2 linked regions of the Homo sapiens genome follow. The protein of the gene in region 1 purifies or fractionates together with the protein of each later gene. This does not show direct contact. Each region holds a gene or a part of one and is shown on either strand. Other genes may lie near its edges. The genes, in order: NXPH1 and CSPG4.

Evidence for each region.
Region 2: the proteins of NXPH1 (region 1) and CSPG4 purify together in Homo sapiens (co-immunoprecipitation; 2 studies listed by BioGRID and IntAct, with this or other methods). This does not show direct contact.

What each region holds. Positions count from the first base shown.
Region 1 is NC_000007.14:8,424,903-8,440,973, forward strand, and holds the start of NXPH1 (neurexophilin-1 precursor), read left to right. Parts: upstream 1-8,706; 5' UTR 8,707-9,853; intron 9,854-10,701; 5' UTR 10,702-10,811; coding exon 10,812-10,865; intron 10,866-16,071. UniProt on the Homo sapiens protein: May be signaling molecules that resemble neuropeptides and that act by binding to alpha-neurexins and possibly other receptors.
Region 2 is NC_000015.10:75,668,148-75,683,546, forward strand, and holds the end of CSPG4 (chondroitin sulfate proteoglycan 4 precursor), read right to left. Parts: intron 14,895-15,399; coding exon 14,696-14,894; intron 14,595-14,695; coding exon 14,460-14,594; intron 14,313-14,459; coding exon 14,146-14,312; intron 9,740-14,145; coding exon 9,556-9,739; intron 9,238-9,555; coding exon 7,403-9,237; 3' UTR 6,175-7,402; downstream 1-6,174. UniProt on the Homo sapiens protein: Proteoglycan playing a role in cell proliferation and migration which stimulates endothelial cells motility during microvascular morphogenesis. May also inhibit neurite outgrowth and growth cone collapse during axon regeneration.

The sequences.
Region 1 (16,071 bases):
CTGTGAGATGGAGTTTTAAAATTCCAATTTATCACCGTCTAGGATAAGGTTTCTCAAAGTGTATTCTTCTGACGACCTTCATCGGATCACCTGGATGCTTGCTAAAATGCCTATTTTAAAGATCAAAGCCCAGACTAGTAAATCCTAATCTAAAGTAGGGCCTGATAATGTGCATTTTACTTCACCCTCCAGGTGGAAATTAAGCAAACTAAGGTTTGGGAATTTCTGTCTTAGGGTATCTTAGATAGTTTCTAGCTCTAGGTTTGCTTGGGGATGGGAGAGAGGAAAGGAGGTAAGGTGGGAAAGGCTGTAGGTAGGGATGTAAACATTTTACCCTAGATTCAACCAGAGAAGCTTTGAATTTCTCTATTTTACCTACCATGTTTTTGAGTGAGAATTCTCTTGAATAAATAATTTCTTGGAAAAAATTAATGAATACATGAAAAGTAACCCTGTTCTAGACATGGGAAGATAAGAGGAGATTTTCTGTGTGTGTGCCGAGGAGTAACAGGGCAAATATGTTGTGTAAGCAAAAATCTATGGGTAGTATAAGGAACTGATCCACCCATCAAGTAAACATCTATTGGGCATCTACTGTGCAGTAGGCATCACACTAAGTGTTGGAGGTACAAAGATGGATAAGACCTTTGTACCACTACAGTCCTTACCACTATAGTGCTCATAGAAGTGAGATTAGTGAGAACTGGAAAACTAGTTGGGAACTGGAAAACCAGTTATAAGGTGTCTGTCCACATGTGAGATGATGAAGCCTCGTCCACGGTGCAAGGAGGTGGATGCAAGAGATATTCCGAAGGAAGGCTTGATGAGACAATGTGCCTGACTGGTCTATGAGATGAACACAAAAATAACCAGATTAATTCTGAGGTGTAAAGCTACATAGAAAGTTTGGGTGCCACAAATGAAGTCATGGGAGCTGTGAATAGGAAGATGTGTGTTGGGGGTGGGGGGTGGAGTATAGTATTGGGGGTATTGTCTAGTTTACCATTGAACATTTTGTATCAAAGAATGGCGGGCATTTGAGTGAAGATTCCGTCTGGCAGATAGAGATATTAGCCTGTAGTTTCAAACCAAAGGGGTGGGCTGGAGGGCAAATTGTTAGCCTGGGAGTGGTTAGTAGGAACAACCAGCACAGGAGACAAAAGGAAACTGTCATAGGTGTAGAAAAGAGACCTGGAAAGAGTGGTTTTATTAAATAGTTACTGGTAAGGTTAATTCAATAGCCCAGGGCTCCAAGGCCTAGTGTTGTTTTTCTCCGGGGATGGCTAACTCCATTTCCCAGGTCCAGAGTTGGTGGTCGTTATGATAATGGTATGCACAGTGCTTTCTGTAACTCTTCTCCCTCTATCTCCTTTCCCTGTTTCATCTGGTCCTGAAGGTAGAGTGATAAGGTGAGGTCTGGTTGTAACAAACTGTTGGGTAAGATACTAATAAGTGGTGAAGCAACTGAACTGTGAGATAGGATTTGGGGTGTACCTGTGCAGAGTGAGCTAGAATTTGGGGACATTGGGGTCTTTTTGGTATCACCACATACTTGGCTCTGGACATGAGGGGGTTAATGAATCTGTCCTGAGTAACTCATTCAGCGCAAATTTTCCATTCAGTTTCTGATTCTGAGCAGTCTCTGAGGATGTTTGCGGTGAAGGAGCTTGTGCCTTCTGGCCAAAATTTCCCACTCTAGTACTGTTCCTTTTGCTCATTTCACTTGGCTGATGTTTGCCTGAAAACTTCCTCCAACTACGCACTCTCTGAGAACTTCCTAGATGAGGACTTGCTGCTGCAGAGGCTCTGATATGCTCTCCTGCTGTGGGGTACACGAGGCTGTTTTTCGGACACTGAGCTTTCTGAGCATGATTGAACATTCAGCTCAATCTAGTTCAAGGTAAGGCTGGGGGTGCAAAACTGAATGTTGCTGTCCAGTAGAGAAGGGACATGTATAAACAGCATGGTGCAAATAGTAAGAATACTTTTTAGTACACAAGTCCCTGAGAAAAGTGGAGAGGATGAGAGGTGATCTTTGAGCAGAGGTTGTAGGAAGATGAGGAGTTTACCTAGAGATTGAATTGAGAGGCGTCAAAGCAAAGGAAAGAAGGTGCAGAGGCTCCAAGTTGAGACATATGGTTGTGTGTTAGAAGCTGTAAGGATAGGTAACTGATGAATGTGAAGCATGTAGTTGAAGAGGGGCCAGATGGAAGGAAAAAAAATGGAGTGGACAGAGGCCAGCTCACAGGGGGTCTCCTGTGCTGAGCTAGGGAGCTGGACTTGATTCTGTAAGCAGTGGAGAGTTTATGAGGAGATTTAAACAAGTGTCTGATGTGGGAACATTTTGGTTTTAGCTCCATCATTCAGGTAACAGTGAGGAGGATATATTTATGGAGACAGAAGCTGAAATGAGGGGAGATCAGTGAAAAGACTATTTCCACAGCCCAGATGACTAATGATATGAGCCTGGGTTATGAGCAGGAGCAGGAGCAGGAGCAGAGAAGAGAGGAGATAAGAGATAATTAGAAATAAAATTGAGATGTGTTGGTAATTTTATGTTTGATGTGGAGGACCAAAAAGAAGGCATAAGAAAATCTGGTACTTAAGTTTTCCAGTATGTTAGTGGGATCAGTTAGTCAGCTTTGCCTGTGATAATGCTGCAAAACAACACCCAAATCTCAACAGTTAAAGAGTAAACATTTGTTTCTCACTTTTGGATCTGCAGAACTACAGGTCAGCTTGGTGGCTATGCTCCAGATCCAGATCAGGCTCTGGTCTTCATGTGCTTTCTCATTTTAGGTCTCAGGCTGAAGGACACAGCTTCTACATGGTGCATGCTGTTCTCCTGGTGGCTGAAGGAGCAAGTGGAAACATGCTATGCCTCTTAAAGACTCTGATTATGATGGAAAAGAACAAGTAAGTAAGACAGGAAAGAAAGAAAGAGAGAGAAAGGAAGGAAGGAAGGAAAGAAGGAAGGAAGGAAGAAAGAAAGAAAGAAAGAAAAAGAAAAGAAAATAAAAAAAGAAAAAAAAGAAAGGCTTTGCATATATGGGGAGGTATACTTCTCCATTTCACCATGAGATCTTTTGGCAAAGGGCATGAGCTTAGTCCCATTACAAGTGGAGAACTCCACAGTGTGTGACACCAACTAACAGGATATATGTGTAATGTAATGACATAATTTCTTCTGTTTTAGGCATATTAATTTTAGGTTCCTCTAGCACATCTAAGTGGACATGATGGCAATTGAATATTCAGACAAAGAAAAACATCAGAAATGGACTTTATGAACTTGGTGGTCACTAGATGTTAATATATAATAAAAACATGGAACTAGACAGGATTGTCTAGTAGGAGTGAAAAGAAAGTTATTGATGGAACCCTGAGGAGCACCAATGTTTAATGTAGGAAGATTAGCACACAGATAATCTGAAAAGGAATGGTTAGTGGGTTATTTAAAATACATGGAGAGAATAGTGGCACTGAAACTAAAATAGTGGAGACAGTTACTAGAGAGAGGGGTATACATTAACGATCCAGTGATTCTCAGATTTTCAAGTCAGCCTTCGTGGAGATGAGTGTGAATGAGATCTTCTCATCTAACCCGGGAAGTTTATTTTTAAAACTAAATTGCTGATTGATGCTCATGGACTCACTAGGGATACAGTGGAATGATATAAATAAAACACAGGGTATGGTTCCTGGCATTTGCCTGGCACTTGGTAATTGGTAGCCATTACCCTGTTGAAAGCTATGGAGCTTTGAGAAATTACCATCTACTTAATACAAAATTTCATGTTAGACTATTTTGCTTTGAACTTTATCAAAAGCATTTTATTATTGAAACTAAAAGAAGCAGAAAAATGTAATATTATGTGATTTTTATAGCATGACCCCTGAAGTTAATTATGGTGAAATTGTAATATAGTTGTTTTCATTAATTTGATATTAAAAAGGGAGATTGAAAGATTTGTTGCATCCCTGTGATATCTCCTATTTAAAAGGTGTCTAATCCAAAACACTGTTATCACTATGACACTATGATATTTGGGTTGAAGCAGTTCTTTGTTCCCTGCCTGTATAAGTCATCTTGTTTTAGAGTGATGTATTCATATTGTCAAATCAGGATAAAAGCTGGACAAACATGTATGTTTCAAAATATCTAGGTACTTTAGATTATGGAGATGAACTATGCATTTACAGACTCATTTTCAGCTTCTGATAACCAAAGAGCTTGTAGCCTTTGTCCTTAACAATTTCTTCCATCCCTGCGTGGTTGAGAGTCCCAGTGTTCTTTCTGGCTGAAAGCAGATACTGTATTTTGCTTTGTTAACAGAACATTGGTTATCAAGTTCTCTGTCTCTAATGATTCTGTTTTAGGGAACTGTCAATTAATAATCTCTGGAGGAATCATCATAAAGAATTTCTGTAATGAGATTATAATGCAAAGGTTTGTTTAGTCACAATATTTTTTAAAATTTTAATTATGATTTTCGGGCGATGACCCCAATCTTTCCATCTTTTACATTCAACTGCCTTTTAAATGCTGGCTTCCTTCAATTTCTCTTATTATGTTCATCCTCTTTTTAAAGTTTTTGAGCATAACTAAAACTACCCTACCTTTGAGAACCCTCTGTCTTCACCTAGTAGAATAAATGAAATGTGGATACAAAGGCTGAGCATATAAATTACCTTTAAAAAAGAAAATGCCTTCTACATAAAGCTTTTTGATTCCCTTTAGTTTTTTTTTATTCTAGAGCTTGACGGCTATTTTTCCTCTCTAGTCCAGTGACCTTGTTATTAAAGCATTATTGTAAAGGTAATTTAGCACACATGCCTCATAGTTATTAACCGAGTTCTACCACATTCAAATACCAAATATTCCAGGCTGGTAAAAATCACTATGCAAATAATCCTTCCTTCCACTAGCAAAATATGTTGGGGGAGTGGAGAGGCCAGGGGCTTTTTTAGTAGTCCTGAGTGACATTTAAGAATTCTGCTAAAGGCCAGGCGCGTTGGCTCATGCCTGTAATCCCAGCACACTGGGAGGCCAAGAGGGGCAGATCACGAGATCAGGAGACTGAGACCATCCTGGCTAATATGGTGAAACCCCGTCTCTATTAAAAATACAAAAAATTAGCCAGGCGTGGCGGCGGGCTCCTGTAGTCCCAGTTACTCGGGAGGCTGAGGCAGGAGAACGGCATGAACCTGGAAGGCGGAGCTTGCAGTGAGCCCAGATCGCGCCACTGCACTCCAGCCTGGGCGACAGAGCGAGACTCCGTCTCAAAAAAAAAAAAAAAAAAAAAAAAAAGAATTCTGCAAAAGTAGTGGAAATAGCTTTGGATCTTTTCTAACCGATATTCATAAGTATAATAAGGATGCCACTTTGAGTGTAGATTCTCATAAATCAGTGACATTAAAAACATGTACAGAACAATTTACATGAAAAAGTAATATGATGAATTCAATACAGTCAACCTCTGACCTAGAAGAAAGGTTATGAGGGTGGAGCAGGGAAGAAATGCAGAAAAAATCTTTGGCTCAAACCTATAAACACACTTGACTAAAAAATCTTTGAAATGCACCAAAAAAGAATGTTTTTTCAAACTGTTAATATCTTTGAAAATCATAATGCAGTACACAATTGTTTTTTGGGAAGCAGGTAAATTTTTTAAACCTGCATTTAATCATAAAAGGTAAAATAAAGGAACTTTAGAATTAGAAATCATTTAAAACATCATGTAACCTTACTTCTGCATTATACAGAGGAGGGTACCGAGGCCAGGTGAATATTTAGGCACTTGTCCAGGACTACACAACATGCAAATGCCAGGTTATACTGAATTAAGGGCAGGAGGGTGATACAGTCTTTGTAAGTTTTCTATCACTATTAGGAAAAAAAATAGGTACAATGCAGTACTATGTACAAAGTGATGTAATTTGGCCTGAAGCTTAAGCAAGACCACAGCTGGATGCTTTGTAACAATAGTTCTCTGTTTTTACTTGGATTTTGGGTAGAATATGATGATATTAAGGTGTTTAAGACAGGTTCATTTTAGGACAAAATTTTGTAGAACTCAGCCTCTCTCTTTATGTCTCTCTTCTCTCCAGCCCCAAGATAATTCAAACCTCTCCCTTCCCTCTCCCCTGCCAAAAAAGAGAATCATACAAATGAACCAAACCAAAATAGATAATTACATTTAACAGAACTATCAGTATATGTCAGAAGATTCTAGTTTAATTTCTTCTGGTTTTAACTTTCAGGAAAGTTAATTTCACTATTTTCTTTTGATGCAGCCCATTTTAACCCTTTAAAAATATATTTCTTAGAGACAAAGATCTATATTATTTCTCGTACTGTTCATTTCAGGTTGGACCAGGTAGACATGGGGAAAAGCAGATGCAGAGGGTTGTGTTTTACAGTGGTTATCATTCATACTAAGTTTATATCTGTATTAAGTTGCATTGCACACAAAGTTTGGAAACAGTATTTCTGAAAGAATTTTCAGCATGAGTAAAGTCAGTAAAAATTGGTACAAACACTATACTTCTTAAGGTAATCACACTTTTGTTCTCACTCAATGAAGCTGACTGTTCATGTATTCTAAGAGTGCATTTTAGAGTAGGATACTACTTGAAACAGAAGAATGTAAGAAAATCATGCTTTTATTGCTCCATTGTTCTTTATAAAGCAAATGATAGGAAAAAAGGAGGGTGAATGAACCATTCTTGTCCACTTCTCCCCCAATATTATATTATTAAAACTGGAGTGGTTTAGCAGAAACGATACATTTTTCTGTGTTACTTGGTGGCTCGGTATCCTTTTCTGGTTGAGTATTATAGGAGATGAAGACCCCTGTGAAATATGAAAAATGACAATCCGCCACTGTTTTATATCACAGGCCAAGTATCTCATAGGATCCAGCGAAGGTTGAATGTCTGGGCAGAAGATCTCAGGTCATTAACAGAAAAAGCTCTTTGGCATCCTGTGTCATAGAACAAAGTGTCAAACCTGTTCCCATTACTAGGTGCCTGTGGTGCTTTTCTTAAATAATCAGTCCCATTCAGACAGACATTTTAAGGTCTCTGATCATCTTTCTATTTCACAAGCAGTATTTTTTTAAGGCTAAATGGCACTAGAAGCAGAATGTTTTTAAAGTAAGGTTTAGAAAAGAACTTGGTATATTCCAAAGCTAGCCGGATTCTTTCTCATTTTCCCAAAGGTCAGACAGAAGTTCAGCTCTGACAGCATTGTAGCTGGGAATCCAGATAGAGGCAGGCAACATTTGCTCCAGCTCTACACTCCAGTCTGGGAGGCCTGGGAGCTCCTGTACAAATAGGAATCAATTTTAGGATAGCCTTATGAATCCTAGAGGATGGAATTAGACAAAGCTTTTTTTGCCCCTGCTTTGACCATTTGGCCTCAGATACGGGTGCCCCAATACTTTAATTTTTCTTCTTTAAAGTTTAAAGTTTTTAAGAAAATGAAATAGCTGGTAAGTGAAAATAGTCAAGAAAACATTGTAATTATGCTATATGTACATGTGCGTTTTTTCTGAAGTGGATTTTCAGAGACACAGTTAGAAGGTGTGCTTCACTGCTTTATTCTGCATATGCCCCAATGAATTCCAGGAGGTCACAGCAGCAGAGTACAACTTTTAAGATTAGAAGAGCTTGCTCTTTAAAGAGTTATTTTTAGCTGGAAGGGAGAGTGTAGACCTCAAAGTGCTGGTAGGTATGTTCTACAGTGGGGATCTAATTTGGAGGTCTTTGGAGATCTGATTCCAGGGGAAGGTCTCAGTGGGGCTCCTCTTGCCTCTGCTGCAGGACTGGGTGGCTCTGCTGATTGTCACTGCCTTGTTTGAGGGGTGGTCTCCATCATCCAGGGGAATTCAGCCTGGGACCTATTGTCTAGAGTGTACATTGTATCTAGGCCCAGACCTGCCAGAGTGTCCACAGCCACACTTGAGGAAAGGACATTCCAGACTCATTAAATATCACAATTCGATTTTGATGTCACTAACTCAGGTTCCTGAGATAAATTTCCATACAATTCCTACAGATTGATATGGATATGTGCATCACCCCAGGAGAGGCTCTGGTGAAGGGCAGGCTTGGAGATGCAATGGGCAAGGTTGGGGAAGAGATACCCTCTTCCGGGTTCCGATTTGTGCCCTGAATTTGGGCAAGCTCAAGGAGCACTGGCAACCCCACCAGCACCAGAAGAAGCTGGTCCTGGCTGTCTCCCGAGACTGGTGAAACTGCTCTGGTGGTGGTGCACTGGAAGGGTGGAGGAAAAAAAACAAAAAACAAAACAGGGTTTGAGGGGGAATGGCAGGGACACGGTAGAGGCACAGAGATACAGAGACCTAGAGTCAGAAATCCTGAGTGAGACACACAGAAAGGCAGAAAAAGGCAGAAAGATGCTGAGGGACAGAGACGCAGACCACAAGAATGACAGAAGAAGGAGACAGAGAGAGAGAGGGAGTGAGAAAGATACTGAGAAATAGGGACAGTAAGGGAGAGACTGAGAAAGACAGAGACAGCCAGAGTCGGAGCACAGAGGCCGAGTCTGGGAGACGCTGGTTGAGTGGGAGGTGTCAGTAGCGAGGGAGGTGGTGACGGCTCGAAGCATCCCCCGTCCTCCTCCTCCCCCTTCACGCTCAGCCCAGCCGGCGGCGAGGAGTCCAGAGGCCAAGGTCGCCCAGTCCTCTCGGCTGTCTCGAGCTGAATGGCTGGCAGTCTGCGGCTCCCCCGCCTCCGGCCCGGCAGCCACAGGTCGGAGGCGCCCGGCGTCGGCGCTCGAGGCCGGCAGGGGCGCCCTGCACCCTCCCGCGCCCTTCCCCGCCCTACGCGACTCCCGGCTGCTCTTCCCGCCACTCCCCTGGGCTTTGCGATCTTCCCTACGCCCCCCGGGAAGGGGGCGCTGCGGCCACCGAAGACACCGCGGGAGCCACTTGTCCCTGTGGGCCCAGCCCGCGAGAGCCTGAGAGCCGGATCTGTTTACACAGGGTACTAATTAGTCTTTGAGGAATCATTCACCCACGTGCCAAAGTAATTGTCCGTGTCAGGAAGGTAGGCGTGCCAAGCCGCGGCTCTGCGGAGAAACCACGACCACCGCGGCCGCCGGAAACCCAAAGCGCTCCAGAGCGTCCCCGGGTGGCCGGGCAGCACCAGGGACAGCGCCCGGGACTCCACTGGGGACCGGCTCCTGGGCTTCCCAGCGTCGCGGGTAGAGGTACAGCTGCTCCGTGTGCCGCAGGCTCCAGATTCTCGCCACCCCACCCCTCCCTCAGAAACTCGGACTGCTCTCGTCTGCCGTGTGGTTCTCTTTTCTTCCGAAAGGCCAGTGTCTTATCTCTCCACTTCAAGTCCAGAGGACTTGCTCAGTCTCCTCCCCTTAAGTCATTTCCACCATCCTCAGGCAGCTGTGGGAAGCCGAGAGTCCTGGACTGTTCGTCCGGGTGCCAGCGCTGGCAGTCCCAGTCCGTCCGGTGCAGCAGCCCGGCGCATTCCCCTCTCTCCCTCCCTCTTGCTCTCCCTCCCTTTCTGTCTTCCTCTCTTTCCTCCTCTACTGCTCCCTCCCTCTCTTGCCTCTTAAGTTTCCTGCACCGTGAATCCAACTGTGCCAAGCCTTGGCTCCCGCGAACCAATCCTGAGCGCGACCCGGGCACTGGGACGGCGACTCCGCCAAAGCTGGACGAGGCAGCCGGACCCGTCTGCGCTCGAGCATGGAGACGGAGCGCCTGGGAGGGCACGTCCGGGGCGCTGGAGACGCCAGGCCCGAGTAGCTTCTCCATGGAGCCTGCCCAGAGCGGTCCCTTCTCGCAGGATTCGCCCCAAGTCCTGTGCGGTACGTACCCTTTGCCTCCGCTGTTCCCGGAGGGTACACCTGGGAGCGGGGTGGTGGGCACGAGGAAGGGACGGCAGGGAGGGGCGCTGGTTAGGAAAGAGAACAAGCCTGGCAGGTGACCCTCACAGCTCGGAGGAGGCTTCTTCTCTAGAAGTTAGCGACCGGCTGTACCCTTTGGCTCGAAAAAAGTAGTGCTAGAGATGTGACTGTGAGCATTCGTGGGTATCTCTGTGTGCGCCAGGGGTTCGAATGGGTAAACTGATCCCTGCTTTCCTGTATGCAAATTGCATTCTCTTTCCCCACCCCCACTTCACCGAACGTGTTGAGGTACCTAGCACCTAATCGCGGTCAGTTCTACCTACCTCTTCCTCTCACCGCGCCCCCCTCGCTCAATCTCTCTCTCTCCCTTTATCTTTCCCCTCTATCTCTCTCTGCTGGTGTGTACGTGTGTGAGCACTGCCAGGGCTGGCGAAGAACCAGCCGCCGCCTTTAGTCCGAGCCGCCGGGCCACCCAACACAAGGGCAGGTCTCGCTGCCGGAGAAGCCTGGGCTCCGAACCAGCCTGCACGCGGCTCAGTGTGCTCCGCCGCCTGGGAACTCGCACCCGAGGAGCGCAGGGGGCAAGGAGCCCCTCACCCTCCCTCTCGTCCGCCCGCCCGCCTCCCCAGCTGCGGACCGCGCGCTTGCTGGTCTCAGGCGCTGGATTTACTCGCTTTTCAATTTTTCGTACCCTCCCTCCCTTTTTTTTTTGGTCCCCCACTCCCCGCTACGACCCCCTTTCCCCGCTTGATTGTCAAGCCTAACCTTGCCCGCGTAGTCATGGGATGTCTAATTTTATTTGCATCTAGGCTGCTGAGAGCGCTCCTTGCTCTGTAAAGTGGATGTCAGGTGGATCTATGTTTCTGAAGGAACAAAGACTCAAAGAAGGCACCGCCAAGGAAGTTTGAGACGCGGGAGAATGCAGGCTGCGTGCTGGTACGTGCTTTTCCTCCTGCAGCCCACCGTCTACTTGGTAAGTCTTGGAAGGTTCGGGGCTTTCGCATTTTTACCCCGGCCGGGAGGCAAGGAAACTGGGGACACGCGGGAGAAGGGTTACGCCGCCAGTTCAGTGAGAGCAGCTTCCTAGCAGCTGTGTTGGAGCAACTTTGGCAAGCTGGTCTCTGGATTCCTGCGGATTTTCCGGGGTTCCCACCCCATTTTCTGCTCCAATCCCCCAGTCTCCTGCGCGTGATTCTTGAAAGGGGCTAGGGCGCCCCAGACACCCTAAACCCAAGGAGGTAGTGAGATGGGGTGCTTTATGTGATAGAGGGCCAACGAGAAGAAGTGGAAGGCAGGAACTCTCAGTAGCTCATGCACAGAGTTTAAACGAAGGGAAGTGGGGGTGTAGTTGGGTGGTGGAAAGAACAAATCTGCCCAGGTCTGTGAGTTTAAAAGTGAATCTACCCACCCACTTCCCCGATTTGGAGATGAGACACATAAAGAAGCGCAGTTAACTTTCTTTGACTTGTAAGGGTTCCGACAGGATAAGTTTAACTATCAGGGGTACTGCAAGCAATCGGAGTTAGGACAGAGATACTCCAGCAAACATGTCCACCTTCCTCTCGTCTCGACCTCCCCTTTTCATCAAATAACTAAATCCCATCTCCAGTGACTAGTCCATTATTAGGGAATGGTAGGCCTTGTCGCCAGGGAGAGAATTCTAAACAAAGCCGCGGTCCTTGTCCTTCAGTAGCAGAGTTTTCCGGGGGGCTGGACTTTGTACACTGCTGGAACTCGGCTCCTGGTTGAAGAGCTTTGTTGTGGTGAATTGGTAGCTGTTTGTGCCATGTTGAGACAAGGAGAATGAGATATTTCAGGTCTGGCTTCTGGGGTGGGAATGGGGGAATGGGGGTAAGGGACACTTGTGCCCTGCTGGTGAAGTTGTGTTCAGTGTCCCGACCCCCATAGCCCATCCTGGGCTGCGGGAGTGCACCGAGGGCTCGCTATGTTCTGTCTAGGGGTGAGGTGCGCTAAAGCAGCCCGAACTCTCTGATGGGCTACACCTCTGATTGGAGGTGATACTGGCGCTCCTCAATCCCAAGAGCCTTAGATAGAACCCATAAGCCTGAAAGAATTGCCATCCCTACAATTGACAGCGTTTCTCGGCCGTTGCCCTGGTGCATGTGGCTGCAAAGCTGCGAGTTGTGTGAATTCTGTGTATGTGAGTGACACGTATATATATGTGTGTGTGAATGTGTATTTAACCGATTTCAGCTTCAATCCAAGAACCCTCAATGTTGCCTGTCTTTGCCCCTTTATCGCCTGACCGTAGCAGCCGCGGACGCCAGAGGGCGCTGCGCATCAGCGTCCTCGCCCACAGGACACCTTGGGGTAAACAGGTGAAAGCCAGGGCAGCCAATCCAAAAGAACAGCCTTTCTGACTCTGTCACCGAAGTCTGTGCCTTTACCCGCTGGAACGCAGGCGGAATGCAAAAAGTGTCCTTCCCATTTCCCATCTTCAATCATTTTCACCCCCACCTGTGTTCAGTAAGCCCACTGACATTGAGAGACCATGGATGGAGGGCAGAAAGTTTGGCCAGAAGAAATATAGAATTTTTTTATTGAGAGATGGGGGGAGGGAATGCAAAGTGAAAGCGACGGGGGCGGGGGGGAGGTAATTTTAAGGATTCCCTTGACCATCGTAACCCGCTTGCCCTTTTCCTCTGCATACCTTTACGCCTGACCTGAACTTGAGGACTGTTCTTACGTCCTTGGGCTGTGCTCACACACACGGCAAGGGCTTGTGGCTATGGTGCAGTTTATTGCTTGGAGCAAGTATTTCGATAGTCTGGAAAATAATCTATCAAAAGCAGAAGTGAAATCAATACTTTGTGTTAAATTTTAAATGTGTTTGTTGGCAGTTAAACCGTTTTCCACTCATTACAACAACAGTGCTGGATTTATTCTAATGCGCTGCGTTCTCAACAACAAGCGCATTAATTCTCCTTTAATTGTAAACTGGGAGCATTTGAAAACCATTCAGTGTGCAAATTATGCTGATTCAATTACCGTTTAGTTACAGACTTCATTACCTGAATGCCTTTTGGCAATACAGAGAAAGGAGACAATTTTTCCAATTTCACTCAAAACAATACGAAATGTGAACAATAAAATAGAGAAGGCTATTTAGAAGTCCGTTCTTTTTTCTCCAATCTAAAGTACTTTTGTGTGTCGGGGACTAGAAACCACATGCACCACAAAAACTACAGCTGATGGCTGTGACCCAAGGCAGTATTTCCAGGGATTGTAATCCCATGGATATTTGCCAGCAGAATTCCGAGCTGTTTTCCTGAAGGAGCAAAAAGCTGACTTCTACCATGGAAATGAATTTAAAAGGGTGAATTGGGCAGTCATTTCGGGATGGTTTTAGGCAAATAAAGAAGTAGAGAGCCTTGATTAAAACTCTAGGGCAATGAACCGATCAAGAAGTGATCAAGGCTTCTTTCTTCATCTATTTCATTAAATACCAGATACAGTTAACTGGATTGATCATTTGTTTGTAGCTGCACATTGGAAGATCTTATCCCTTTGTAAGAACCTGCACTGGATGCATACAGATTGTCAGGAGCTGCTTTAAGTTACATTCAAAGAAGGCAAGAGTGGCAAAACCATTATTTTAATTTTCTCTTGAACTGACATAAGCCAGGGAAGAATTTGATGGATAATTTTTGTCTTTGTGAGCTCACACCACTAGTTAAGTGCCTGCATCACTCTGTTTATGCCTTACCTCTTAGCTGATATCTCAGTGCACCTTGACCTTTAAGCCCATGGTATCCTAGTTATGTTTCCCAGGGAGTAATCACCACATTAAGTCCATGAAACAAGACTTGTCTAGTTATCTCCTAAAGAAATATTTAGGCTTCTGTTTAAAGTGAATACCTTAAATACCCCCAAATTTGAGAATAACTTCTTATGAAAACTCTGCAGTAGGTCAATGCCCCACACCAAGCCACAGTTTCCTACCTGTATTTGGGTGAATGTTTGCAAAGTATGTTTCTGGGCCCGGGATTCTTTGAATGCTTTAGGTTGAGGATTTTTGTGTTTTTTGAGAGACAAGTCTGTCCTAGTTCAAAATAGAAGCTTATTTTAGTACTTTAATGGGAAACTAATTAGATATGTGCCCACAGAGTTACCTTCTGAAGCATGTTAGCTGGAATACTCAAAATCCACCACAGGACAAGCTCCAGCCATAAATGCATGGGGGTGGGAAACTAACTTTTAAAAATAAAGGTAAATAAAATTTCAGACTATTGAATGTTATGTATTGCAGATTTAAAAGCCTGAATTCAATAGGAGAGAAGTCTATGGTTAACAACGCTTATTAAAAATAATAAAAAAGTTTTGCAATCTTTATTCTCTTATTATTCCTGGACCAATTCCAGGATATTTTCAGTATGATACAATGGGATGGCAGGATGATAGCATTTTAACTTTATTGAAGCATATATTGAATCAGCTAGAAAAATATGGTTCCTTGCTCTGAAGAGTGGGGGTTCTAACTTGAATCAGCCTCATTGGATCAAGTAGAAGGATAGGCCAGGACACCAGGAAAGCATCTCCCACAGGGTGTGGCATTCTGTTTGGGGGCTCACCTGTGGTAACTCTCAGTTAGAGAGGTGAGTCTAATGAGCACTTTCTGAGCATGCTAATGAAAAAGCTACTCAGAAATTGAATCCAATGCATCCGACAAGGCATTGTATAAAGTTACTGTGACTAGTCACCCATCCACAGCTCTATTCTAATGAGAAGGGGTCCCACCATTTCTGCTAGGAATTAAATTGCTAATAATCAAGTTGCTTTTTAAATCAAAATAGGCATGAATTAAAAATCCTTTCTAAACTTGTGCCACATTATGAGCCATCTATTCTCTCAAATTTGGGATATCCTTAAAATGTGAATTCTACACCAATTGTTTAATAGAGTTTGGAGAGTAATTAATGTATCTATGGGACCACTACCTCTGCACTGTTAAAAGCTAGATCATTTGGGTGAAATCCACTCATTATGAAGATGGCTGTTAAGGTATATTGGAGCTGGGGGAAAAGCAGAGGGAGAGAGACCAGCAATGTCTTTTCTTTGGACTAGGTATGTGTGCTTCTCATTCTTTAAAAATTAAGCCAGCTGCACACTGAAAATTCTAATCAATTTGAGCTTATTACTGAAAATAAACAAAATAAAATAAATTTCCTGACAGTGGCTATTAAGTGTTCCCTATTAAGGCTAGTTCTTGGAGGCAGTACTAAAAGTTTCTCATTCCACTGCATTTCCTGACTCTTCTACTACAGACCAGCCTTTTAGATACATACGGGATTCAGACTAGATTTTTGGAAGGCCCTCTACCCCAGAAGCACAGCCTTAGAACTCATCAGTTTTAAGATGTATTCCTGAGCTCTGGGGGACACAGAAGTTGCTACTATTCTAGGCATTTCCCTGAAATGTTCAACTTTCCATTGACCAAGAAAGCAGCTCGCCCAAGTGTGTGGGAAGCACTTGGGTGGGACACTTTTCTGCCCCATTTCCAGAAGGATTATCTTGGTCTGAGGCCTTCTAGTGACAGCTTTAGAGAAGCTGACTTTAGTATTCGGAGAGAACCAGGATTGCTCCAACTTTCTCAGCGGTATTTTTTCGGAAAGCCATTAAATTCGTGGCTCCTCTGTGCGAAGTTGATTTCTATTTGGCTTTGAATTGTTGACGGCTATTTCTTCCTTAATGAAAGTGTTGTCTGGGTGAAAAATATATCAGGTGGCTGGGAAATTGGTTGATTTTTTTTTGAGATAGGTGCCCAGTGTCCTATTTTTCTATCTGAGGAAAGATTTTCTGCAGACTACAGAAATTGACAGCATTGTCCGGGTAATAACCGTCGTCGACAATATTTTCGAAAGGGCATTTGAGTGCCGAAAGCATTTGGATATTGCTTTTTCCAATAAGAAATTTTCTGCCCTGAGCTTCTTTGATTTTATAGGGGGTGGGGAGTTGACTAGGGGGGCGATGGGGAAGAAGGAGCCTCGCATTGGCAAAGAGATGCCTTCCCCATCCTCCCAGTCCTGGAATACCAAGGTGCTTGTCAGCTTCACCTGGAATTCCTGGATCTGAAGAGCCCTCAAATAATTCGGCTGCGAGTCAAAAGGGAATTTCAGGAATGAGGAATAACACTCTTCTTGCGCTCCTGTAAAGCAAGT
Region 2 (15,399 bases), on another chromosome or scaffold:
CCTGTGATCCCAGCACTTTGGAAAGCAGATGCGGGCATATCACTTGAGGTCAGGAGTTCGAGACCAGCCTGGCCAACATGGTGAAACCGTGCCTCTACTAAAAATACAAAAATTAGCCGGGCATGGTGGTATGCGCCTGTAGTCCCAGCTACTCGGGAGGCTGAGGCAGGAGAATCGCTTGAACCTGGGAAGCGGAGGTTGCAGTGAGCCGAGATCACGCCACTGCACTCCAGCCTGGGCGGCAGAGCGAGACTCCGTATTTTAAAAAAAAAAGCCGGTCACGGTGTCTCACGCCTGTAATCCCAGCCCTTTGGGAGGCCGAGGTGGGTGGATCACGAGGTCAGGAGATCGAGACCATCCTGGCTAACACGGCGAAAACCCGTCTCTACCAAAAAACAGAAAAAAAAATTAGCCAGGCGTGGTGGCGGACGCCTGAAGTCCCAGCTACTCGGGAGGCTGAGGCAGGAGAACGGCGTGAATCTCGGAGGCGGAGCTTGCAGCGAGCCGAGATCGTGCCACTGCACATCTGCCTGGGCGACAGAGTGAGACTCTGTCTCAAAACAAAACAAAACGAACAAAAAAAAAACAAAAAAACGAACAACAACAAAAAAAAGGCCAACATTTATTGAGCATTTACTGTGTGTGAGGGGCTGTTCTAAGAGCTTTGCCTTAACACTGACCCTTTGGAAAGAAACCTTGGTCAGTTATACTGTTTTGGTAGATCTTCATTCAGAGAGAGGGCAGAAGCTGGGCTGGGGCCCTCTGGCCAGACACATAGCATGAATGCTGGAAGGGACAGGAGGAGGGCTTCTAGGCAGAAAGCAGGCACTGAGCTCCCAGGCCTGGCTCAATACTCTCTCGAACCAGTGGTCCCTTCTTGAGTTAGAACAGGTGGGTGGACTTGTACAAGCTCACCAAGTGGACAGTCACTGCCTCTGCCCTCCTTCCTTCAGTTCATGTGTTCTGCCCCCAGACTCTGAGCTTCTCAGGGCAGATTAGGGAGCAGAGGTCCTGGGGCCTTGAACCTTCATGGAGTCCCTGGGCCTTGCCCCAGTTGCTTGTCCAGGTGCAGTACTCACAAGGCAACCTTTTAGCAGGGCTGACTCAGAAGGGGCCTTTCTACCTGAGTCACTGACTTCCAGGAGCGCTCAGGCTCTGCCAGCCTCGCCCACCTGCCCAGCAGCTCTTTAGGTCACCCCAGCACAGGCGCCACCTTCCCCAACAAGACTCAACAAGGCTCCCCTGCCGCAGTCTGGTTCTTGAAGGTCTCTGCCCTGGCCAGCATGTCTGGCATCCCTGGCCCATTGCCTGGCCCCGATGCCTCTCCAGGTGTTGGGCATCCCACTGCTGAGAGACATATCTTTGGCATCTGGAAGTGTTTCAAGCCTCTAGGAGGCCTAGCTCTGCCGGTGAATTGCTTTGTGACTATGGTTGAGTCACACCTCTTCTCTGGGCCCCCTGATTGAATGCACGGTCGTCTGGGTGGGGGAGAGGTGAGGGCATCCGTGGCTCTGCTCTGCCCCTTGCCCCCGAAGGTTGTGATCAAGTGAGCCCTGTGAGTGGTTAGCCCGGCTGGCACAGCGCCCCATGAGCCTGGATGTTCTCAGGAGGGCTGTTGGGCAGGGGGAGGCTGAGTGTAAGGGGGTTTGGGGTCATCTCCTCCTCCTGCCCCACTTAACTTTGCTTCTTTCTGTGGTGAGCCCCCACGTGTGATTTGGTGAACGTGTTCTGCCCATAGCGTTCTGAGATAGACCCTATAGGCAGAACACGTTCAGGCAGAATGACCTCAGGTGTCTGGGTGGGAGGGAGCCACGGGCGAGTCTGAAGGAGGTGTGCAGTGAGCTCTGAAGCATCTGGGAGGGAAAGATTAAATCCACCCGACAGAAACTCAGGGCCTGGGGTCAGGTCAGCCTGGGCCCTAGCAGAGATCTGGGGCCAGAGCAGCCATCGAGAGCCCAGCCAGCAACCCTGGGGGTGAGAGGAGCAGGGGAGCCAGAGTGGGAACCCAGGAGAGGTCTGGGTAGGATGGGTGGTCAGAGGCCTCTTGGCTTGAGGGCATGTCTGAGGGAAGGGGGTGCTGTGTTCTGGCAGTAGATGTTTGCTGGACATCTACTGTGTACCCAGCATGGGCACAGCAGTGGCTAGGCCAGGCTACACACTGCCTTAGTGGAGTGTATAGAATTGAACGATGCCTACTGCAGGGTGTGGGGGTCTGGGGCCTTCACCTGGGCTTTGGCTCAACAACCCAGGAGGGGAGTGGAGTTGGTGGGGGTCCCAAAGGCACTCCCAGCACCAGGATAGCCCACAGGCTGGGGGCCATAGACCAGCATTCCTTCTGTGGACAGGAGAGACAGTGGGGCACCTCTGCGGGACAGAGAGCTCTGGGTGTCCCATGCCCTCCTTCTGACCAGGCCTGGCTGGCAGTGTGACAGGTGGCTTCTTTCCCCTCTCCTGCTGGCTGCCCTGCTCCTCCATGGGGGAGGCCCTGTGCATGACACAGGCACTGACTGGTGACATTGGCCGGACACTTCCCTTCATCTCTTCCCCTGACAGGTGAGACCAGATGGGCAGGGAAGGGACAGGAAGGGAAGGAGCAGCCAGATTACAGAAGGTGGGGTGGTGGGGCTACTGTACTTCCCAGGGCCCCATCTTTGGGAGGTAAGGATGGGAGTAGGCTGTTTCCTGCAGAGCCTCCCCATTGGATCAGATCTGGCTGCTGGTCTTACCCTCCTCTGCTTCCCTCTCTTGTCCTCACTGGAGTCCCCTGGGGAAGGAACCCATGTCAGAACCCATCCCTCCAAACCTGCAGCGGATGTGGGGGTCTTTGCAAGAGTGAGAGCTGAAGTGGAATAGAAAACCCTGGGACAGGGCTCGAGGTCTGACCCCTCTTCCAGCTCAGCCACCAGCTCACTGTATGATCTTGGTCTGGGCCCTGCCTCTCCCATTTTAGTGTCCCCTAATTAAAGGGTGAGGGGAAGACTTCAGTCAGGACTTACACTGTGTCATGTGTCTTCTAATCACCAGGGACCTTGTTAAAACACAGTCTGATTCAGCTACTCTGGGGTAGGGCCTGAGAGTCTTCATTTCCAACAAGCTCCCAGGTAATGCCGGTGCTGCCAGTTCATGGACTCCACTTTGAGCAGCAAAGACTTAGGCAACTCATTGCATTTGAGTCTGCAAGACCCAGAGACTGTGTCTCTTGGGTCCTTTGCAATCTCACGAGGCATCAGAAGGAAGCCTTGGGATTAGCTCCAGGCTCTGGACTAACAGAGCACGGATCTCAGGTTGGCAGGCAGGGGAACTATCCTAGTCCCCTGCTGAGGCTGTGTTTGGGTAAAAAAGTCCTTCTTGGCAACTGGGCGATTTAATCCAGGGTTGCTTCTGTCTCTAGGGGCTCACAGGACATCTGGAACATGAAGGAACACAACACAACCCACCAATTATCTTGGTGGCCACAGAGGGCCCTCCAAGGAGCTGATGCCCTTTGTGAGGCTAGTAGCCATCAGTTAAATACTGTAATCCATTACACTGAGAATAGAAATGTAACCAGGATGTAGCTGAACATGCCCAGCTTTAGCTGCCATGTGGCTGGGCCTTCCATGGAAAGGACCAGCCTTCTCTAAGGAGAGGAGGAAGCAGACAGAGGCAGTGAGCCCTCCCACTCTGCGCTTCCCCTCACTGGCCTGCTCACACCGCTGGGTGAAGGCACATGTCAGGGTTAGGTAGTTATTCAATGGTATGCCTGCGGCTCTTCAGGAAGGGCTGATTGGATTCCTATCTACATCTTCCACTGCATTTTTGGCACAAAATGCTCTGGCTATTGCCTGACCAATCTTAGCGGTAACTCCACAGGGATGGCGTTACCTATGAGAGGCCCTAGGGTCGGAGTGGAGCTGTGTAGAGGAGCCCAGCGGGTCTGGTTCTCTACCTTGGTCCCAACTATTTACCAGGGCTTCCCGACATCTTACGGCCAGGAATGGGAGATCCAACCAGAGAGGTCTGGAGTTCTGCCCAGGAAGAACCTCCACCTCTTTGAGATCTGGAATCTTCAGGGCCTGGAGGAAGATGCCAGCAGCCCTGGCAGTTCTCATTGGTCAGGGGAGGTCGGTGTGGGGTGGCAGAAGCACTTCTCTGGCTTCCTATTGGGGGATGAGTGTGCAAGCTCAGTGGGCTCCCTGGCTGCCAGAGCAATCTGCTTAAAGGACTGGCTTCTAGGATGCAGGGAAGGGCTCAGAGGGAGCCCCTTCTCTAGCACCTGAGAGACTAAGCCACTTAGGGTGGTGGGCAGGGTTTCTAAGCTGGGGTCCTGGGGATCTGGGCCCCTCTGGCAACTCCTACCCTGTCCCCTTCCCCCACCAGTGGGCTCACTTTGCAATTCTGCTGATGTCAGCTTGAGTGCCTTAATGGGCAGAAAATCCTGACTCCTTTGCCCGACTAGGCTAGCTGGGACTGCAGGGGGCCCCAGGTAAGGAGCATATACTTCTGAAATTTGTGTGTGCCCCCGCGTATGCGTTTGTGTCTTAGGTAGGTAGGTATTTATCTCTGTGTTGTGTGTCTGAAGGTCATGCATGAGCCTGTGTTCATATACACAATGGCGTGCACAAAGGCACATTATGGATTTGTGTATGTTTGTTTGTGTGGAGAGGGTCAGGAGCTCCCAGACATTCCTGAACACTTGCACATGGGTTGGCTGTTATCTCCAGCGCCTGGGAGGAACTGGCTCCTTAAAGGAGGGGGATGGTGAGTTACTTTGTAAAGTGGAGACAAGCCCCTTAAGCCCTGGGGAAAGGGATTTACATAAACCAAGGTCCCACGTTTAGGTTGGGTTCTCAGCTCTGGTGTGCCCATGAAAGACCCTCTCCCAGGTCCTAGCAGAGCTGCTGGCACAGTGCCCTGGGTGCCAGCCCACTGTCCTGCATGGGCTCAGAGGAGCTGGAACGGTGTCAGCTGGTGCCAGCTCCCTGGGGGCAGGGCAGGCCGGGCCAGGCTATGTGAACAGAGTGTGTCCTCAGTCCTCTGGGGGAAATCGGAGACCAGGCCAGATCCTGCCTGCTGGGTCTCTCACCCTCTTCTCAGCTTACACTTCCAGGGAAACTGGTCACCCTGGGTAGAGACTTGCTCCAGATATCAGGGCCCTGAGGCTCCAGCCTGAGCTCCTGGGAGGGGATGTGGTGTAGAGACACCCTTGGCCAGGCCCCTGCCTCAGGCTGGCCTGGGGCGCCAGAGAGACCAGGCTTGTAGAAGGAACGGAGCAGGCTCACGCGGAGCCCTGTGCACGGTGAGCTCAGGGTGCAGAGGGATCTCTGGGGCCCTGGTCACCCTCCCTGGGGAGTCCTGCTTTTCAGTGTGGCAAGAAGCGCCTTGCTGTGTGACAGCCCTCTTCCCCTCCCTGACTCTTAGTCTCCCCTGGGTCCTCTGGGGGCCCTAACAGCAGGATGTACCTGGCCTCCTGCCCGAAGCCTCTCAGAGTGGAGGAGGACCTAGGAGGCTGGACACTGAGATGCGAGAGGCGTCATAGGAGGGGCGGTCCAGGGGCAGGGTGGGGAGGAGACTTCTCTTGCTCATTCCTGGTTCAAATGTTTCAGATGTTGGGATGCAGGGAAGAGGTGACTCTGGTCCCCAGATGCAGGTCAGCTGCCAGAGGCTGGCCAGGGCTTCCCACCCACTGACCCTGGCTGCACTCAGAGGCCTCTCACATTTCTCTTCCTCTCTTCAGTCTACTGTCAGGGCCAGGCATATCCCCTGGGACCCAGAATCTGTCTCCATTGCCCCCAACCCTGCGACACCCTCAAGAGAGGTCTAGAGGGTGGTGACTCAGTAACTCAGAGAGGGCCTTCTGGAGATGCCGCGGCCTCAGAACCCCTCTGTAACCCAATGCTGGCCTCTCAGGCCACGTGCGGGGATGCCTGGCTTTTCTGAATCCTTGCTGCTTCCTCTGGCTTTGAGAAGCAGCACACTTGGTCCTCCTGTTGGGAGGGTGGACACCAGCAGAAGCCTTCCTTGTAAAAGTTTCTAGGAGGCACCTGTGGTGGTTCTCCTCCCCCTCCCCCTTGGTACCATGTCCCAGCCTTGGGATCCCCAAGTCCCCCCACTCCCTTCACTTTGCTGCTGCAACCCCTTGAGAGGTGGCTGGGGAAGGACAGGGGTATGGAGGTCGAAACTCAGGCTAATAAATCTAGGGTGGGGAGCATTTATTTTAATTTTTGTCTTGCAGCTCTTTGTAGAGGACCTAGCCTTTCTCTACTGAACTGAAGGGGTTTGGTCCCATCACCCGAAGACTGGCCCACCTGCCCACACAGGTGGGGGCACAGGAGGTCTGGGAGGCCCCAGGAGGTGGAAGTTCAGAGGCCTGCCTGGCCCTGTCCATCCCACTGGCTGAGGCCAGGCCGGAGGGCCGACCCCAGGGGCCCTCTGTATGCAAGCCGACGCAGACAAGGGCCCAGTGCATAGTTAAGACACAAACACCACACAGCTGTCCAGAGCCTCCAAAGCACTGTTTATCCAGGCTCCATGGAACCAAGTGCCCCCAGCTGCCTGCCCTAGTCCTCAGGGGGGCACTGGCACCGCAGTGGCCTCGGCCTGAGACCCTCGATGAGCCCCAGCCTAACCTGCTCCAAAGCCACTGACACATGCATGTTTAGCCCTTGGCCCATCAAGATGGGGCCCTGGGAATGAACTGGCTGCAGACCCTCCTCCATCCCACACCCCCAGGGGCTCCATCAGTCCTGGCTAGCTCAGCACCATGTTAAATAGCTTCCTTGCAATCTCCCTTAAATAAACCCATCCCCAGAGCAACCTACCCACCCTGCACCCTGAATATATTATCCTATTGGCTTATGCCTTCTAGACTGGAGGCGCTCTCTCCTCTTGCCCTCTACTCCAGGGGATACCATCTCCCTAAAAAACCAGGGGAGGAAGTTTTTTTCTCAACTCTGGGGCAGAGACAAAGGGTGGCCTGGGTTGGAGTGGAAAAGCCAGGAATAGCTTCCTCTGTCCCTTCCCTCCCCAGGGTACTTCCTTCTCCTTGCCCTCTTAGCAGCCTGGGTCAGGCGCGACTTACCCAAGGTCACAGACCCAGGACCCAGAGTCATGACCCATGTAGGAGGTTACCCTGGTTTTGACAGCCCAAACCAGCTCCAGGGCAGGAGGACTGAACTTAAGCCTGCCTCCACCTTGGCCCCTGCAGTTCTCCAGGCTCGGAGTGAGCTGAGGGAGGTTCCAGCTCTTGACTCCACTCTGTCCCGGACCCCTGGGACTATCTCCCAGGACCCTCCACCCCTGGTGTCTCCAGGTCTCTCTTGCTCTGGGGATACTCAGACAGCACCAGGCATGGAAGCAATGGGGCCCGGGACATGGGCAAGCCTGTCCCTGGCCCGATCAGCATCTGGGCCCAGGCCAGGCCTCACACCCAGTACTGGCCATTCTTAAGGGCAGGGTTGGGTGTCCGGCAGAACTGCAGCAGCTCTGGGTCAGGCTGGCCTCCTGGAGGGGGCCCCTGGCCAGGCACAGCTGTGAGCGGGATGGCCTGGCCTGGCTCCACCTTGCGAAAGGTCTCGGTGTCACCAGCCAGGCCGTTGCGGGGCTTGGCAGTCAGGACCTGGACGTCATGCTTGCCCGTCTTGTTGCGTTTTCGGAGGTAGAAGAGCAGGGGCAGGATGAGCGCCAGGAGCAGAAGTACCAGGCACATGGGGATGATGACGCTGAACATGTTGGCCTCAAGGAAGCTCAGGAAGCCTCCCTTGGCCACAGCGGGCTCAGGGCTGGATGCCATGGGGCCTGGCTCGCCTGTGGGGGTGCTGCTCTCTGGCTTCCCTGCTTCCGTCCGGGCGGCCTCGGGGACACTGAGCAGGGCCACGCTGTAGGGCCGGGCAGCATTGTAAGGCTCAGTGGCAAAGTCCAGGGAGGCCACAGCAGGCGGGACGCCCTGTGCCCACAGCTCCAGAGTGAGACTGTCACCTGCGGGGCCGGGGGCCCTCCCCTCTGGCCTGCCCACCTCCAGCCCCAGCCTCCCGTCCTCAAGGTCCTGCTGAGTGAACTGCTCCACCAGCTGGCTGCCCCCGGGCTCCGTCCTGGCTCGGGGCACGCGGACCACGCGGCCATGCCGGGGTCCCTCCAGGAGGCGGAAGCGCGGCACACTGCCTGTGCGGTTGGCCAGCTCGCCAGCATCTAGGACGGTGGGGTCCAGGCGCAGGGTGGCACCCTGGGGCCATGGCCCACCTGCCCACACATGCAGCAGAGCCCTCACAGTGACGTTCACTACGGCTGATGCATTGACACCCCTAGCCAGTGCCAGGACTCTGAAGTGGTCATGAGAGGAGGAGAAGTTGGTGAAGGCAAAGACCACCTCGCCCTGGTCTATCTGGAATTGGCTGAAGGCCGAGGTGGGCCGCCCGCCCACCAGGAGATGCCCATACTGGGGTCCCTGGATGAGGCGGTATGCTGCCTCTGGCTCCTCCCGATCTGAAACCACCCGGAGCTGCTGCTGGCTCAGTGAGGAGCGCCCCAAAGCTTGGGGCACCTCCAGGGGTGCCCGCAGCTGCACCTCGATGGCGGATGGTAGGATGTCCACAGCCAGGGACATGGGCAGGGGTGGGCTGGCCCCATCAGACATGCTCAGCTGGAAGATGCCTGCCACGCTGCTCCCGTTGGCCACGAAGGCCAGCCGCCCTGAATCCACATCGGCTTGCGTGAAGCGGGTCACGGGCCCCAGGCCACCACCCACCAGGCTGAGGAAGCCGTTGTGGGGTGCCCGCTGGACCTCGTACTCAATCTCCCCAGGAGCTGAGTCTGGGTCCACCACACTCAGCTGGGCCCGGGAGATGGGGGCACGAGAGCCTCGGGTGAGCCGGAGTGGGACAGAGGCCTGTGGCTGAGGGGGCCGCTCATTTACATCCCTCACCGTGATGGCAAAGGCCTCTGAGGTTTGGGGTCCAGCCACGGAGGCCCCTGCTGGCCCCTGGAGGTGGGCACGAAAGTGGAAGCCATCCTGCTGGGTGCCCCCACCGCCGTGGGCATACACTAGCTGCCCTGCAGCCAGCTGGGACTGCAGGAAGTGGGGCTGCCCAGCATGGAGGGGCTCCTCGGACACCAACAGCTGGCCCCGGCTGGGGAACTGTGTGACCTGGAAGAGCACATCATGCTCTGAGCGCTGGGGTGATGGAACGCTGGCCAAGAGATTGGAGGCATCCAGAGCAGCCACGGTGATCCTGGCCCGCTGGCCCTCGGGGACCCAGAGACCTGGGGGTGGGACATAGGCTATGAGGGTCCAGCCCACTGAGGGGAGAGTGATGGACCCTCAGCTGGGGGTGCCTCAGGGCAAGGATGTGCCTCCCCCCAACCATCAAGCCAGGTCCTCCAGGGTGGGGCTCAGGGTTCCCAGGAGGATAAGGACTATGTCCCCGCTGTGATGTCAAAGCTTCCCCACTCACCCTCCCTGTGACTTCCCAGGTCCTGGGGGCTGAGACAGGAGCTGCTGACCCTGGCCTCGTGTCCCCTCCTCCTGGGCCTCTCCCATTGTCCCTCCCCACAATCTTGCCAGCTTATCATGCTGTTCACCTTTGTTCTTCCAGAGGTGGCTGGGGCGCTGGGGACAGGCAGCCTCAAAAGACACAGCCACAGCAAGGGTGGCGGCCACGTCCCGGGCAGGCGGCGAGGACAGCTGGAGCTCTAGGGTATCATGGGCCTCCCAAAAGGGCTCGGGGGGCATCTCATGCTCATACAGAATATTCCCAGCGTAGACCTAGGGGAGACACCATCGTGGGGTGAGAGGCAGGTCCAGCCTGTGTTGTCCAGACACTGAGCACTTTTGTCTCCTCAGGCCCCACTCTGGGCTCTCCTGGGTGTGCCCAGGTCTGTGCGTGTGACCCGCTGTCTCCCTCACTAACTCACTGGGTCACATCAGGCAATGCAGTGCAGAGCTGGGCTCTGGAGCCGGAGCCTGGGCTCAAACCCCAACTCTGCCACCCTGGGGAAATCGCCTAATTTCTCTGACCTCTGGGGAATGCAATGATCTGTCTGTGCTGCTCTCTAAAGCGAGTACTTCCTCTTGTGCACAGGATCCTATCCCCTCTTGCCTTCTGAAGACACCACTTCTACTGTCTCTTGGCTTTCTCCTATGGTGTCAGTTCCCCCCAGATGCATCATTCCCTTCATTATGCAACTATGCTATTCTTTTGTCTCACTTACATTAAAGCTATTTAATTAATTATTATTATTATTATTTTGAGACAGGGTCTTGCTCTGTTGCCCAGACTGGACTGCAGTGGCGTGATCATGGCTCACTGCAGCCTCGACCTCCAGGGCTCAAGCGATCCTCCCACCTCAGCTTCCCAAGTAGCGGGGACTGCAGGCACATGCCACCACACCCAGCTATTTTTTTTTATTGTTTGTTGAGACAGGGTCTCACTATGTTGCCCAGGCTGGTCTTGAACTTCTGGGCTCAAGCGGTCCACTTGCCTCGGCCTCCCAGAGTGCTAGGATTACAGGCAGGAGGCACTGCACCTGGCCAGAAAAAACTATTCTTGACTTCACATTTTCCACCAGCTTCACCCCTGCCCCTTTGCTTCTCTTTGCAGCAAAACTTCAAAAAGCATAGTCCACGCTCTCCCCCAGGCATTCTTGGGTCTCTCTACCCAGGATTTTGCTCCCCCATCGCCACATCTCCTTTTGCCAAGGGCACCAGAGGCCTCCGTGTTGTTGGATCCAGCGGTCGGCTCTCAGCCTCCTCTTAACTGCTCAGTGGCACTGGTGCCGCCAAGCAACCCTTCCTCCAAGAGAGCCACAGGCTCTGGGATACTTCACTCTGGGGTTCCTCCTACCTCACAGACTCTCCTGGCTGGTCCTCCTCTTCTCCCCAACATCTTATGGCCAGGTCTCCAGGCTCTTTTCTGTCTACAGGCACTCTCCATGAGTCCTTATTCAGTCTCCTGGCCTCAAATGCCAGCTGTGCTGAGACCCCCTTATTTGTAGCTCCAGCCTAGCCTGCTCTCCCCTGAACCCCAGACTCATGTTTCCAGCTACCTCTGCCGATATCTAATAGACACCTCAAACTCAACCTGCCCCGGCTGCACTCCCGATCGGCCCCCACCTCCTACAGTCATCCTGCTTCAGAGACTATAGCTCCGTTTTCAAGGGCTCAGGCCACACCCTTGGAACCACCCTTGCATCCTCTCTTTCCCTCAAACCACCGCATCTCTCACCTGGATTATCGTAACAGCTTCCTGTGTCCCAGCTGCAGTCCCCCGCCCATTACATTTTGTTCCTAACACAGCAGCCAGAGTGAGCCTTTTGAAAGGGAAGATTATGGGGCTCTTTGGCTCACATAGTGCAGTGTCTCCCCATCTGACCACTAAGGCCTGGCTGTGACCATATCACCCCTGCGACCTCAACTCCCCTCACCTCCACTCCAGACACACCTGCTGTTCTATGGTGCTGCCTGCAGTTCAACACCAAAGAATATTCTTCGCTCCAGGAAGAAAAACGGTTTTCTCCACCTCCAATCACAATGTGTTCTTTTGGCCTATCTTTTGCTCCCCACCCACCCTTTTTTTTGAGACGGAGTCTTGCTCTGTCGCCCAGGCTGGAATGCAGTGGCACGATCTTGGCTCACTGCAACCTCCACCTCCACCTCCCGGGTTCAAGCGATTCCCCTGCCTCAGCCTCCTGAGTAGCTGGGACTATAAATGCGTGCCACCACGCCCAGCTCATTTTTTGTATTTTAGTAGAGATGGGGTTTCACCATGTTAGCCAGGATAGTTTCGATCTCTTGACCTCGTGATCCACCCGCCTTGGCCTCCCAAAGTGCTGGGATTACAGCTGTGAGCCACCGCGCCCGGCCTTATTTTCCCCTTTTAGGAAACACTGGGAACTATTTTCTTCTCAGAGAAAAACAGGACTTGCCCAATAGTAACATGGAAACTTAACAGGGTCTTAACCTGTGAAGACTCTAGGAGCAGAACCCGGAGTAAGGGGGAGCAGGGGCCGGAGTAAGGGGAGCAGGGCCCCGTCTAAGATGGGGCAGGGCCTGGGCTAAGGGAGAGCAGGGCCGGGCTAAGGGGAGGCAGGGCCCAGTCTGAGGTGGGGGCAGGGCCTGGTCTAAGGGGAGCAGAGCCTGGGCTAAAGGGCAGCTGAGCCCAGTCTGAAGGAGAGCCGAGCTATCTGAATAGGGGCTAGCACCTGTTCTAAAGGAAGTGGCTGCTCCCCTGCTTTCGCTGTAAGAGGGAACACAGGCCTTTTAAGAAAATGGGAATCAAGTTTTTTGTTTAATTTCCCAAAGGTTATATGTTGACAATTAACTTCAAAGTATTAGCTGCTTTTTGTAGGCCAAATAAACACGTCTGTGGGCCAGATCTGGCCCAGGACTAGAGTTGCCAGTGGCAACTTCTGGCCCAGGCTGAATGGTGGGCAGGAAGGAAATGGAGCCCCCAGGAGTGGGAGTGGGAGCTGATGCCTGGGTACGGGAGCTCTGTGGGTGGGAGTGAGACAAAAAACAGGGTCTTGAGCTCTGGGGAGCAAGCAGTGTCCTCCAGTGAAGGAAATCCTGGACTCGCAGGCAGAAGTTTTGCCTCTTACTCGCCATGTGCTCTGAATAAAGTTACCTGCCCTCCACGAGCCTGTTTCCTTATCTGAAAAATGGGGACACCTGACCCCTTCCCTGCCCAGTTTAGTGTTGTGGGACAGGGCTGCTGTCAAGACAATACCCAGTCCTGCCCTCCTCCCAGAGTGGGCCAGGGTAGCCCACGTAGCCTCTTCCCTGCTTTCCTGGGTGGCACTGCCAGCCTGACCCCCTGGTGTCCATTCAGTCTAGTCCTTCATATTTCTGGGGCACGGGGAAGCTCTGAGTAACGTGGGACTATAAAGTGCAAGAGGGTTGCTGATGGCCTGGTCCCGTGCCCTCTCCATTCCTGGGCATTCTTGACAAAGGCTCCCAGCAACTGAGGGTACGCAGCAGCTGCAGACACCAGCCTGACAAATATCTCATTGTGGGGAGGGGGCCATAGCAGGAGTGGGGAGCCAGGGAAATACAGAACCTGGGACTGGGAGGTGTTGATGTGAGAAGCCCAAGAAACTTCATTCCACCTGTCAAAGCCACCTCCTTCCAGATGCCCAAATCTGAGCCACTTGCTGGGCAGGGACTTTGCCTTTGCACTTGCTGAATACCATCTGCACCTCTCAGGAGGGAGAGTGCCAGGCTCAGGAGTCCCTGCCGAGCTAGGAAAGGGGGCTGGGGTGGGCTCTGCCATTTTTTGAAGGCTGGCAGGGGGACCCCTCAGGAGGTACTTGGGGCAGTACCATATGCTGTGGCTCCTGAGTGAGAGTCAGCTCTGCGCCCCACAAGACCACTCCCTACCCAGAATTCACTGTCATCATGTGCTGGGTCCAGATGCCCATGCAGCCTCCTGGCGGGAGCATCACATGTGCCGCCTGCCTGGGATGGCCCATGGAAGAGTCTGCCCCGCTCTGCCCTGCTATGGAACAACTCCTGTTCTGTCTTCAGCGAGTGGTGTTCATTTAAGTGATGACTGGGCTGGCCCCCATGGCACAGTTATCACAGAGAGTCTGCTGCTACCCATGGCTGAGAGCTCTAATTCTTCCTGGTGGTCTCTGAAGCCACCAGGACGGATGAACAGCAGCTTCACCCTCTTGGCTGACTCAGCTGCCTTTCATCAGCTCATCTGCCCCTAGGATCCACTCTGCCTCTGGCTGGCACTTGACCTGAGCCCCAGGCTCACACCTCTGCCCACAGGCCCAGCCGCTGCTTCACGTCCAACTCCATCCCCCACCAAGCACTGCCCCTCATCAGCTACTGGGGTACCACTAGTGCCCCCACATGGTGCCCCCTCTCCAGACCCTCGGGTCCGGCTGTAGCTTCCTTCTGGAAGCTATACCCCAAGACCCCAGCCCTGCTCTAGGGCCCTGTATCCCCGACTTTCTGCATCCTTCTCCCTCCTTCTGGGAACATGAACTTGCCCTGCCAGCCTGGCGGCTCCTGGAGGACAGGACACTAGCGCCTGGACAATGGCAGGCCCGGGAACGTCTGCTGCCAGTGATGCTGGAGCTGGCATCCATGTCCACATGATGTCCATGGCACAGCGGCCACCTGAGGCTGGGGGCATCTGAGTGGTGGCTGCAAAGTTGGGCCCTTACCTCTGCCTGAGTGAAGTTCACCAGGGCCTCCCCTGTGCTGTCCTGCTGGGCGTGGAACAGCCGGCCTAGCTGGGGGCCCCGCACCACACGGTAGAGCAGGAGCTGGGGGTCAGTGCCTGCGCTGGAGCTGGCCCTGAGGGTCTGACTGCTGAGTGGCTGGACGGACCCTGCCAGAGGCAAAAGGGGATATCAGATTTTGACTGGGAGCCAGGTCCAGGCCTGTGTTTGCAAAGAGGCAGCGTGACCCTGGCATGCCACCCTCAGCTCCGCCCCAGCTCCTGGCACCCAGGAATGCCCATGATCAGCACACCCACCTGGGCAGACAGTCAGTGTCTGGCTGCCCTTCAGCGAGAGGAGCACTTGCTTCTGGGCCGTCACTCGGAAGAAGTGTCCGGGGGAAGTGTGCTCGCCGTCAGAGAGGCGGAAGCGGAAGCCTCCATCCAGGGTTCCTGGGGACAGGGGCATTGGGTCCAGCTGGCCCGAGCCGGCTCCCCATCTCAGGGCACCCCCGTGGGCAGCAGGAACCCGAGGCCCGGCCCTCAGCACCCACCTCTGTGTGAGAACAGCACGAGCCCGCCGTCCAGCTGGGCCTGCGTGAAGCTGCGCACCTCAGTGCCCGGCGCCCCCCGCAGCACTACCCGCCCGTTGCTGGGCTGCTCGATGGTGTAGACCAGATCCTCAGACCCAGAGTCGCCGTCCGTGCTCCTCAGAGCCTCCGCAGGGATGGGCGCAGTGGCCCCCTCCCACATCTGGGAACACAGGCCTGTGAAGGTTCTGCCTTGCCGCACTCACCCACCCCTTCCTCCCCGGCCCTGGGCTGCCACCAGGGCTCCAGTCCTGCTGCGGCTCAGCCCCTCGGGTGGCATCGAGGCTGGCGCCACTCTGGCTCCCCTGCACAAAGGGCCTCCCGCATTCACCTTCCCTGTCACCCCAGGGAAGGCCCCAGGGAAGGTCACCCTCCAGGCCCAGCCTCCCTGCTCTCCATCTGCCCTAGTCCTGTGTGTCCCTCAAGGCCAGCTTATGTCCCCTACCCAGGAAGGCCCCAGCTCTTACCCTCACCAAGTTCTCACTCCCAGAAACCCCCAGCGCTGACCAACAGTGCTCCCTAATCTGTCTCACTGGTGGGACAGGGGTCTCCTTTCAGAGCCTCCGTGTGTGCCTGGCCGGGGCCGGGCACAGGTGGGAATGGTGATTTTAGAAATGGGCCCTCCTTCCAGCTGAGGGAGGGGTGCGTGGCGCAGAGAGTGGGGGGCT